3 separate regions of the Homo sapiens genome follow, and all the other regions are reported to be linked to region 1. The links are microRNA targets in miRTarBase. Many come from high-throughput screens and were not tested one by one. Region 1 holds a microRNA gene; each other region holds the end of a gene's coding sequence.
Evidence for each region. Region 1 holds the annotated microRNA hsa-miR-8065 (UGUAGGAACAGUUGAAUUUUGGCU, at 1,261-1,284, opposite strand). A microRNA usually pairs through its seed, bases 2 to 8, with sites in the 3' UTR of a target mRNA and lowers its output. Matches are read on the target gene's strand: a 7mer-m8 pairs with bases 2 to 8, a 7mer-A1 pairs with bases 2 to 7 and ends in A, and an 8mer does both.

Region 2: miRTarBase lists HEXIM1 as a target of hsa-miR-8065. Seed matches in the 3' UTR shown: 8mer at 1,824-1,831.
Region 3: miRTarBase lists SCML4 as a target of hsa-miR-8065. Seed matches in the 3' UTR shown: 7mer-m8 at 69-75.

The regions. Positions count from the first base shown.
Region 1 is chr16:5,630,232-5,633,816 of GRCh38, reverse strand. It overlaps MIR8065 (microRNA 8065), which reads right to left and starts at 1,350; the gene lies at 1,251-1,350. It also overlaps a transcript of RBFOX1 not described here.
Region 2 is chr17:45,149,916-45,152,915 of GRCh38, reverse strand. HEXIM1 (HEXIM P-TEFb complex subunit 1) reads right to left here. Exons shown (of 1, transcript NM_006460.3): 1 at 817-3,000. The coding sequence ends at 2,646. HEXIM2-AS1 (HEXIM2 antisense RNA 1) reads left to right here. Exons shown (of 3, transcript NR_186789.1): 3 at 1,997-3,000. Among named protein-coding and RNA genes, the nearest start is that of HEXIM1, 2.9 kb to the right of the region's middle. RefSeq lists an enhancer at 2,783-3,000.
Region 3 is chr6:107,702,385-107,705,384 of GRCh38, forward strand. SCML4 (Scm polycomb group protein like 4) reads right to left here. Exons shown (of 8, transcript NM_198081.5): 8 at 1-2,941. The coding sequence ends at 2,816. Among named protein-coding and RNA genes, the nearest start is that of SCML4, 120 kb to the right of the region's middle.

The DNA.
Region 1 (3,585 bases):
CAGTGGCCTCCGCCTCCTGGGTTCTAGCCATTCTCCTGCCTCAGCCTCCTGAGCAGCTGCGATTACAGGCATGCACCACGACGCCCGGCTAATTTTTGTATTTTTAGAAGAGACGGAGTTTCACGATGTTGGCCAGGCTGACCTCAAACTCCCCACCTCAGGTGAGCCACCCACCTCGACCTCCCAAAGTGCTGGGATTACAGGCGTGAGCCACCACACCCAGCCCTTTACCCACTTTTTGATGGGATTATTTCTTTTATTCTTGTTGATTTGAGTTCCTTGTAGATTCTGGATGTCAGTCTTTTGTCGGATACACAGTTTGTGAATATTTTCTAAAAGACTACATATTGGGTAGAGAGTCGTTGCTCCAGTGATGAGTGCAACAAAATCTCAGAAATCACCACTAAAGAGCTCATCCATGTAATGAAAAACCACCTGTAACCCTAAAACTATTGAAAGTTTTTTTACAAAAAGAGCACCTATGCTTTGGAATGAGAAAAGAAACCAGAAGTGTGTGGTTCCAGGGAGAAGAGTGGGAGCTTCAAAATGTTCCAACTTGCACTGATGTAAAAGAGTTGTTGGCTGGGCGTGGTGGCTCAGACCTGTAATCCCAGCACTTTGGGAGGCCGAGGCAGCTGGATCACGAGGTCAGGAGTTCGAGACCAGCCTGGCCAATATGGCGAAATTCCGTCTCTATTAAAAATACAAAAATTAGCCGGGCATGGTGACTGGTGCCTACAGTCCCAGCTACTCAGGAGGCTGAGGCAGGAGAATCACTTGAACTTGGGAGGTAGAGGATGCAGTGAGCTGAGATCATAACACTGCATTCCAGCCCAGGTGACAGAGTGAGACTCCACCTCAAAAAAAAAAAAAAAAGGAGTTGTTAAGATTGCAAGCCCAGGAATCAGGTGACCTGGGTTGTGTTCCCAGCCCAGTTTTCTTAGCCACAGTGGAGAAAGTTACGGAAATTCTGTGTGCTGCAGTTCTCCCAGCTTATATGGAAGAGTACCTACCTCACAGGTTTGAAGGAAGGCTCATTCATGACCACTTTGTAAAGTGTTATCACAGCAGCATGTGCGGGACAGTAAGTGCTCACTAAATCACAGTGATGCGGCTGTATTAAACCTTCCCAATATGCCCTTATAGGCTCCAAAACAAAAGACAAATAAACATAGTTGGGCTAGGTGGCTCGTGGACAGGGCCTGGAGGTGAGTGCTATTTCCAGATAAATCACCGCTGATATTGTGTGTAATTACATGAAGCCAAAATTCAACTGTTCCTACAAGACATCAAAGCCCTTGCCTTGCTGAAAAATACAACAACAACAAAAATGATGGCTCTCATGTACTGAGCTGTCACTATGCTATGCACTTTTCATCTGCTTAATTTGATTCTCACCACAACATACAGGGTAGCTATTAGCATCTCCATCTTAAGGGGGTCAAATAACGTTGACCAGGAAACAGCTACAAGAGGTAAAAGGGCTTGCCCAAGGGACACAGAGATTGATGTGGGTTGGGAACCCAGCAGGTGTAACTCCCATATTCATCCTTACTCTCGTTCATCAGACTGTGGCTAGTTGTCTCATGACATCGTCTCTAATACAGAATAATAATTATTTTTAGTATACTGAATGCATACATGTGATAGGTACCATATGAAGTAGCTTACCTGCATCCTGTGTCCTTTGTGAAGAGGCCTCTTCTGGGCACACACAGATGCCCTTCCTCTGGTACCTCTGTGCCCTCCTTGGCTTCCTAGCTTAAGTAGGACTGGAAAAGAAAGCTCAGACATCCAATCCTCCTGTGAGATCTTTAGACGGAAGCTTATAGAGAGCAAACAGGTGGAGGCTTAACCTTTCTTTCCTACTTGGGGATGCCATTTCTACTGTCTCCACTCTATCATTCACCTGACCCTAGTGAACACCCCAGTGTCCATCCCAGAAAATGATCCTACAATGGGAGCTGCCTTTGGCCAAATTTTGACTTTGTAAGAGAAAAGCTCATCTAGACAATGCTCAACTTCCTTTCACCAGACTCTGGACACTTCATTGAATAAATACTCAGTAAGCACCTCCTAAGAGCCAAAACTCAATACTAAGTACAAAAAATGAGGGTAGGGGAAGGCAATGATCAAGTAGCTTCCGTTCTAGGAGGTGGGAAACATGAATGCAGAAGGGCAAAGGAGTCTGCAATAAATTACCTAAAACTGAAGTCAAAATGTAATGGATACATAGAAGAGACACTTTTTTTTTTTTTTTAAATATGGAGTCTCGGTCTGTCACCAGGCTGGAGTGCAGTGGTGCGATCTCGGCTCACTGCAACCTCCGCCTCCTTGGTTCAAGAGATTCTCCTGCCTCAGCCTCCCGAGTAGCTGGGACTACAAGCACCCGCCACCATACCCGGCTAATTTTTGTATTTTTAATAGAGATGGAGTTTTGCCATATTGGCCAGGCTGGTCTTGAACTCCTGACCTCGTGATCCACCTGCCTCGGCTTCCCAAAATGCTGGGATTACAGGCGTAAGCCACCACGCCTGCCCGAAGAGAGACTTTTAAATGTGCATGAGGATTGGAGAGAGCCTCTAAGACCCTGACCAGTAACATCAGCCACCAACATCATCATCATCAACCTCATCACCTTCATCAGAGCAAATTCCGACATACTCAATGACCGGTTGAGTTTTCTTTGCTTTGCTTTAGATTGTTTCAAATGTAGATGCAGCACCTCTGAGTGCCAACAGTCACGTTTTGGGGACTGGTTTGGCCATCTGTTGTGGACAACCTCTAGATACAAGTGCGACCCTTCCAAGGGGAATCACTTCACCACTCCCACTTTCCCTTTCTTAAATGTCAAATGTTGCCATTCTGCAGCTGTTTTGGAATAGATGGAGAAAATAACATCAGAAACCAACTAAAAAAAACATATTTGGTCATTAAACATCAGCAAACTAAAACATGTAAAGTTCAAGTTGCTCCCCTCTGAAATGACTTCCTCATCCACACACTCTATCTCCCTCATTGCCTTTTTTCCAACAATTGAAGTCCAAGGCGAGAGTTAGAGCCTGGCCCTCCAGATACTGCCTGGGTATGAATGACAAGCCCACGTCCATCAGGATAGAAAAAGAATAAGAAGCCGGCTTGGCTTCTCTCTGGGAAACGCTGGTTGATGAGGGCACTGCCACCAATCAATGGAAACTTCAGTCCTTTCCATCAAGAGTATCATGAAAGCCACCCGCCAGTGCTCTGAAGGTCCTGACGTGGCCTGCAGGCAGAGATTGAAGAACTTTTGTAATCAGATGGTGGGGCACATCTGATGTCTAAGGTCCCAAAGTTTTCTCCTTTTTTTCTTTCTTTTTTTTCGAGACAGAGTCTTACTCTGTCACCCAGGCTGGAGTGCAATAGCGTGGTCTTGGCTCACTGCAAACTCCACCTCCCGGGTTCAAACGATTCTCCTCCCTCAGCCTCCTGAGTAGCTGGGATTACAGACATGTGCCACAATGCCTGGCTAATTTTTGTATTTTTAGTAGACACAGGGTTTCACCATGTTGCCCAGGCTGGTCTCGAACTCCTGACCTCAGGTGATCC
Region 2 (3,000 bases), not on the chromosome of region 1:
GCTGGGATTACAGGCATGTGCCACCACACCCGGCTAATTTTTGTATTTTTAGTAGAGACGGGGCTTCTGTATGTTGGTCAGGCTGGTCTCTTAACTCCTGACCTCAGGTGATCTGCCCACCTCAGCCTCCCAAAGTGCTGGGATTACAGGCATGAGCCACTGTGCCCAGCCTAGATATCTGTATATTTGAAGACTGGGCTGAATTTGTCTTCTAAAACATACTTTTTCTGATGATAAATGCATTTATAGTCTTTCCAAGATTCATTTTCTAAATATCATTTTTCTAATACTAGGGGAAATAAGATTTTCATAGCTGAATCCCTCTTTAAGAAGAGGGTCTGGGCTGGGCGCAGTGGCTCATGCCTGTAATCCCAGCACTTTGGGAGGCCGAGGCGGGCGGATCACCTGAGGTCGTGAGTTCGAGAGCACCCTGACCAACATGGAGAAACTACGTCTCTACTAAAAATACAAAATTAGCTGGGGGTGGTGGCACATGCCTGTAATCCCAGCTACTAGGGAGGCTGAGGCAGGAGAATCGCTTGAACCTGGGAGGCAGAGGTTGCGGTGAGCCAAGATTGCACCATTGCACTCCAGCCTGGGCAACAAGAGCGAAACTCCGTCTCAAAAAAAAAAAAAAATAAAGAAAAAGGGTCTAATATCAGAGATAATCACTGCTGCATCTTACAGTTCAGTCAAAATGAGGCTTCAGCTCTGCACTGTAAAGCCAGAGGGCACTGTTGCTGCCTTTCCAAGCAGCTGTTTTTCTGGGGCTGCTGCATGACGTCATAGCAGAAGAAAAAAACACGAAGAAAACTATTTCAAAATAAATGTTTAATATAATTTTTAGACCAAAGAAAAACTCAATCATACATTGTCTCCAGTGGACCATATGTGCCAGAACAGGACCAACTCAGTCCAGCTTTGAAGGCCCTGATTCAGTCCTACTGGTATAATCTCCCTTGATTTATTGATTTGTGTATGCTTCTTATGCAATACAAGGTGCATTTTACTCTTGAAGTCCCTATCACCTCCACCATCGCCATTTAACTGCAAAAGCATGCTTCCTAATGGGAGGGTTTTCTTCCCCCTTCCCTGCAGAGGTTCTGAACCTTCAAGGAGTTTGACAATCTTATGAATCTCTTGAACCTTCTCCCCAGAAAAATGTACATACAAGTCTACAAATAATTTCATGGGGTTCATGGACCCCAAGGCCCACAATGGTTTCTAAGGCCCCAAATTAAGGAACCTCTGTGCTAGTGATTTGAGCAACGCAATTGCCCTCAGAAGACACTGACACAGGGCAGGTGAAGGACTGGGTTAACCAAAATGACAGGAGGCAATCTCATAATTTCTGTTTTTATTTTGGGGCAAAATTTAGTTCTCAGGGCCTCCCTACGTTTAAGAGCAGAACTACTCAAGAACCTAAGCAGCTATCAGCATAGTTTAAGCGATTTAGAATAGGGCTGTGCAAGGGGATGTACAGGGTTCCTCATTCAGCTGAGGACCTCATTTAGCTCCTTAACTGGAAGCTTTACATTTGATCTGCAGTGAGGGGACATTTCTAATTTTAGTTTGACCCACATGGAAAGGTGGATAGCTTTTTTTTTTTGTTTTGGTATAGAGAGCACGTAGAATTGGACAATTAGGTAAATCCTTGGAATCCCCCAAACAGCCATTTGCTTTATAAATCCAGTATTTCTTACCTCTGAACGTCTTAAAGAGCTGCCTCACAAATTAATCTAACCATTGCTTGCACTAAGAAGTTTGCCAAGAGCCTCTTCCAGCCTTACTGGGGGGAAGGAAGAGATTACTGAAAACCAACTTGTAGGAATGAAATGAGGCTGTCAGTTGTCTAACCTAACAAACTGCCAAATTAGGTTTACATTTTTTGTTATTAGACTTTTGAATGGCCGAGGCAGAGTTAAATTTAAAATTTTGGATTGTAGCCACTTTCCACTCGCCTAAACACTCAATACCGGTTTGTTTATTTTTCCAGCATCAAGAAAGAAAACCAAGGCACTAGAAAGCAAGCACACTTAAGTATTGAAGATAATTACATCTTAAATTTTGCCTGAACTGTATATTGTAGCATACTTAAACCCATTCAAGGAAAAAATTGGCAAATTGAAAATTCTCCCATTAAAGATTGATATTTTTGCAAACTGACAAATTTAACGATTTCGGTACCCCTCCCCAAAAATGCAGTCACATAAAATATATCAATACTATTTTGAATTAGCTCTAGAAATCACACTGAAACTATGTTACATTTACAAATATTAAATTTATTATAACTAAAATGAATTTAATTGTTCTCAGATTTGGCCACCTTATAGCTCCGTTTAAGGAGGGGATTTGTTAAAAACAAAAATGCATTATAACTTGGTCAAATTACTTTCACATTAAGGAAAAAAACTTCTAAAAAGGAAAACAAGAAAAGCAACTCTTCAGTTTCACATAATTAAAAGAACAGGAGAAAGCACGCAAGCTACATATAGCTAAATTTACGAAACCAAAGCCAGGGGGATTTCTCTTCTGATTATGTGTCATAAAAAGGTCCACTGTCTTATATACACATGTATATAATGTTACATTCCATCACTGTAAAAAGTCCCCTTTGCCCCCTCCCCCAAAAAAGTTTCAGTCTAGTCTCCAAACTTGGAAAGCGGCGCTCGCTCCTGCTGCCGGTGCAGTTCGTTCTCGGTCAGCAGCTGGAGGTTCTCGGCGCGCAGCCGGTCCAGCTCCAGCTCCAGCTCCCGCACACGCGCGTCGTCGCCACCCAGCCGCTTGCTCTCCAGCCGCAGCCGGTTGTTCTCGTCCTCCATGCGCGAGAGGCACTTCTCCAGTTCCAGGTACTCCTTGATGAGCTCCTGCTTGCTCATGTTCTGCAGGCTCTCCGTGTGGTACCGCTCGTACGTCTCCGAGAAGTCCCGCTGCAGAAACTCGCTGCCGTCCCCTCCCATCCCATCGCTGCCCCCATCCTCCTCACCCCCTTCTTCC
Region 3 (3,000 bases), not on the chromosome of region 1:
GGGCTGATTTTTATTTGAGAGCACCAATGTTTGTGACTCTGTAGTGAAGGAGGCACTGATGAGGGTGGGTAGGAAGTTTTGAAAACTTGATACTGGAAGTCACTACATGAGGTATCTGTTGATGGAAGAGGTACCACAAGTATCGGAAGATTGAGAAAAAAAAGAGGAGTGAAAAACCTGGATTGTTGTGGGATTTTTCTGGATCTCATTGTTTTCACCCTGGCAGTTCTGAGTACATAACCTGCCCATGGCTGTTTTGAGGGAAATGTATCTAACTCTAAACCAGCAGTGAGCACTTACGATTAATAAATTCTTAAGAGACAGGCCCTATCACCTTAAAATCTTGAAGACTCTGCCCCAAGGCCTGATTCAAGGTACTTTTCTCAGGTGCTGAACCTGTCAGAGGCATTTGAACCAGAGCAACTCCATCTTGAATGGGAGCTGGGTAAAATGAGGCTGAGACCTACTGGGCTGCATTCCCAGATGGCTAAAGCATTCTGAGTCACAGGATGAGACAGGAGGTCAGCACAAGATATAGGTCATAAAGACCTTCTGATAAAACAGGTTGCAGTAAAGAAGTTGGCTAAAACCCACCAAAACCAAGATGGCAACGAGAGTGACCTCTGGTTGTCCTCGCTGCTATACTACCACCAGTGCCATGACGGTTTACAAATGCCATGGCAACATCAGGAAGTTACCCTATATGATCTAAAAGGGGGAGGCATGAATAATCCACCCCTTGTTTAGCATATCAAGAAATAAACATAAAAATGGGCAACCAGCAGCCCTCAGAGCTGCTTTGACTATGGGGTAGCCATTCTTTCCTTCCTTTACTTTCTTAATAAACTTGCTTTCACTTTACTTTATGGACTCACCCTGAATTCTTTCTTGCATGAGATCCAAGAGCCCTCTCTTGGGGTCTGGATCGGGACCCCCTTCCTGTAACAAAATCACCAGACATCAAGCTCTTCTACAATCTAATAACTCAAGCTCAATTCAGTGAGCAAGTTTAGTACATTCTCCTCCTCCCCTTCTCTGCCATGCTCTCAGTCCAGCCGCCATTTGTGTGTCTGAAAAGGAGGCTACGATGTGCTTTCTCAAGTACTGCACATGAAAGTGGGCCTAACGGCATGGCATGGACTATTTCTTATGGCCTTCATCTGGATTCTAACTATATAGAGGGTCACTCTGCAGATCTACCCAGGGCTGCCCTCAAGGTTATACAGGTCATGCTCTGTACAACGGCAGCTGATCAAGCGGTGAGGAGGTTGAGCCCCCACCCTGCTCCACTTGCCAGCTGAGACCCCTGCTCAGGTTGTATCCCAGAGAAAGGGGTGCCTTTTCTGATTCACCTTTGGGCGAAGGGAGGCCCTGAGTCATCCCTAACCCTCTCCCTCCCAGAAATTCCAAAATCTAATGTTCATCTCCTCATCTCCAACACTGTTGATGTCCTTTTAAGGAAGAGAATATGCACATGGCAAAGGCGAATTCATTTTGAAGATATGTTTTCTGCTCAGTGTGAAAGAAGAAGAAGAGAGGTGGAGGGAAACAGAGAAAAGAGAAGGATAAAACGAATGGTGGAGAAGTTGTGCCTCTGCCTAATAAATTGTGGATTCATTGTCCGTCTCTGGACACAGCTGCAAAGGAGCAGAAAATCAATTTTTTCTATTACTCCACTGTGAGGAAGGAAAACCTATTTGTAAATTGAATTAAACCCCATAATAGCATGTCTGTGTATTTGTTGAGGACTAGAAAAATTAGCCACAGATACAACTACATAACCCAGCAATGTAACTAGAAATCAACACTCTCCCATTTCAAAGCTTCGTTGAGACATTTTCTTTTCCTTTTTTAAAGAAACACCCATGGCTAAATGTCACTAAGATTCTTCGGCATGCCAACACTTCAACACCTCAATAAGGACTCTGGAAGGGAAGGAACTCCAAAGTCCCATCTGGGTAGAGCGTGCTTCCAAATTCTTGCCTTTGCTAGTTGAGTATCAGTCAGTCAGTCAATAATGATTGGATACGAACTAGACCCCTCTAGCTGATGGTTTCTTCCCAAGTCGCAATCTGTGGTGCTAACTGTGGAATAAATCCCCTGTTTCTGTGTGGGCTAGATCTTGTTCACAGACACCCTAACCCATCCACTCAGTACTGAACAATCCTGCTACTGCAGTCAGTGAGGGTCCTGAAATTTCATTAGCAGTCTGCCCTCTAGCGGAGAAACACAGTACTTCAGATTTTCTAGGAACAGAAAAGATTTTTTTTTTTTTCCTTTTTCTTTCACGGCGTAAAATAATTCAAGTTTTCCAGACAGTGCAAGGTGAGGCAGTCATCTTCAGAAGTCAGCTTCCAGAGCTGAGGCAAACAAGGCTCACATGGATAGGTCCCCAGGTCAGAGTTAGAGGCAGATGGTGCTGAGGGGGTTGTCCCTGCAGAGACCGCAGGGACAAAGGTCCTTCTTTCATCCTTTGAACCCTCCAGAACTCTCCTTGGGCATAAGCATTCAGTTCCCCACTCTCTCGTTATGCAAATAGGACCCACTTTAAGAGAAACCAGCATAACAGGGATGTTAAAAATCACAGGCTTTTGTAATTTTTTGGCAAATTATGAACACAGAGGAGCCTCTCGAAAAGGTCCATGTTAAATTCTTCAAAAGGCAAAGATTCACAAGTTTTATAAAAAGACCACGTCTCTGTGGCTGTTAATTTTAAGAGGAGAGTCTAGTTTGTGATGTTGGCGGGATATTGGTAAGGCAGAAGATAATCTTGGGATCTGTTGTTTTGGGTTTCGCTTCTGTCTTTTTAAAAAAGTCAGAACTTGGCTTGCTTCAGTTTGTCAATGTGGTAGCAGAGTTTCAGTGCAGGTCCCAGCTTCAGGCCCAGGTACTTCATGACCATGTCACTCTTCAGCAACAGCAGAGCGTTGCCATCAATCTCCTGGTGGGATAGGATCAGAAGAAAGATAAACCCAGAAGATGGTCAGAGTCATCGAACAG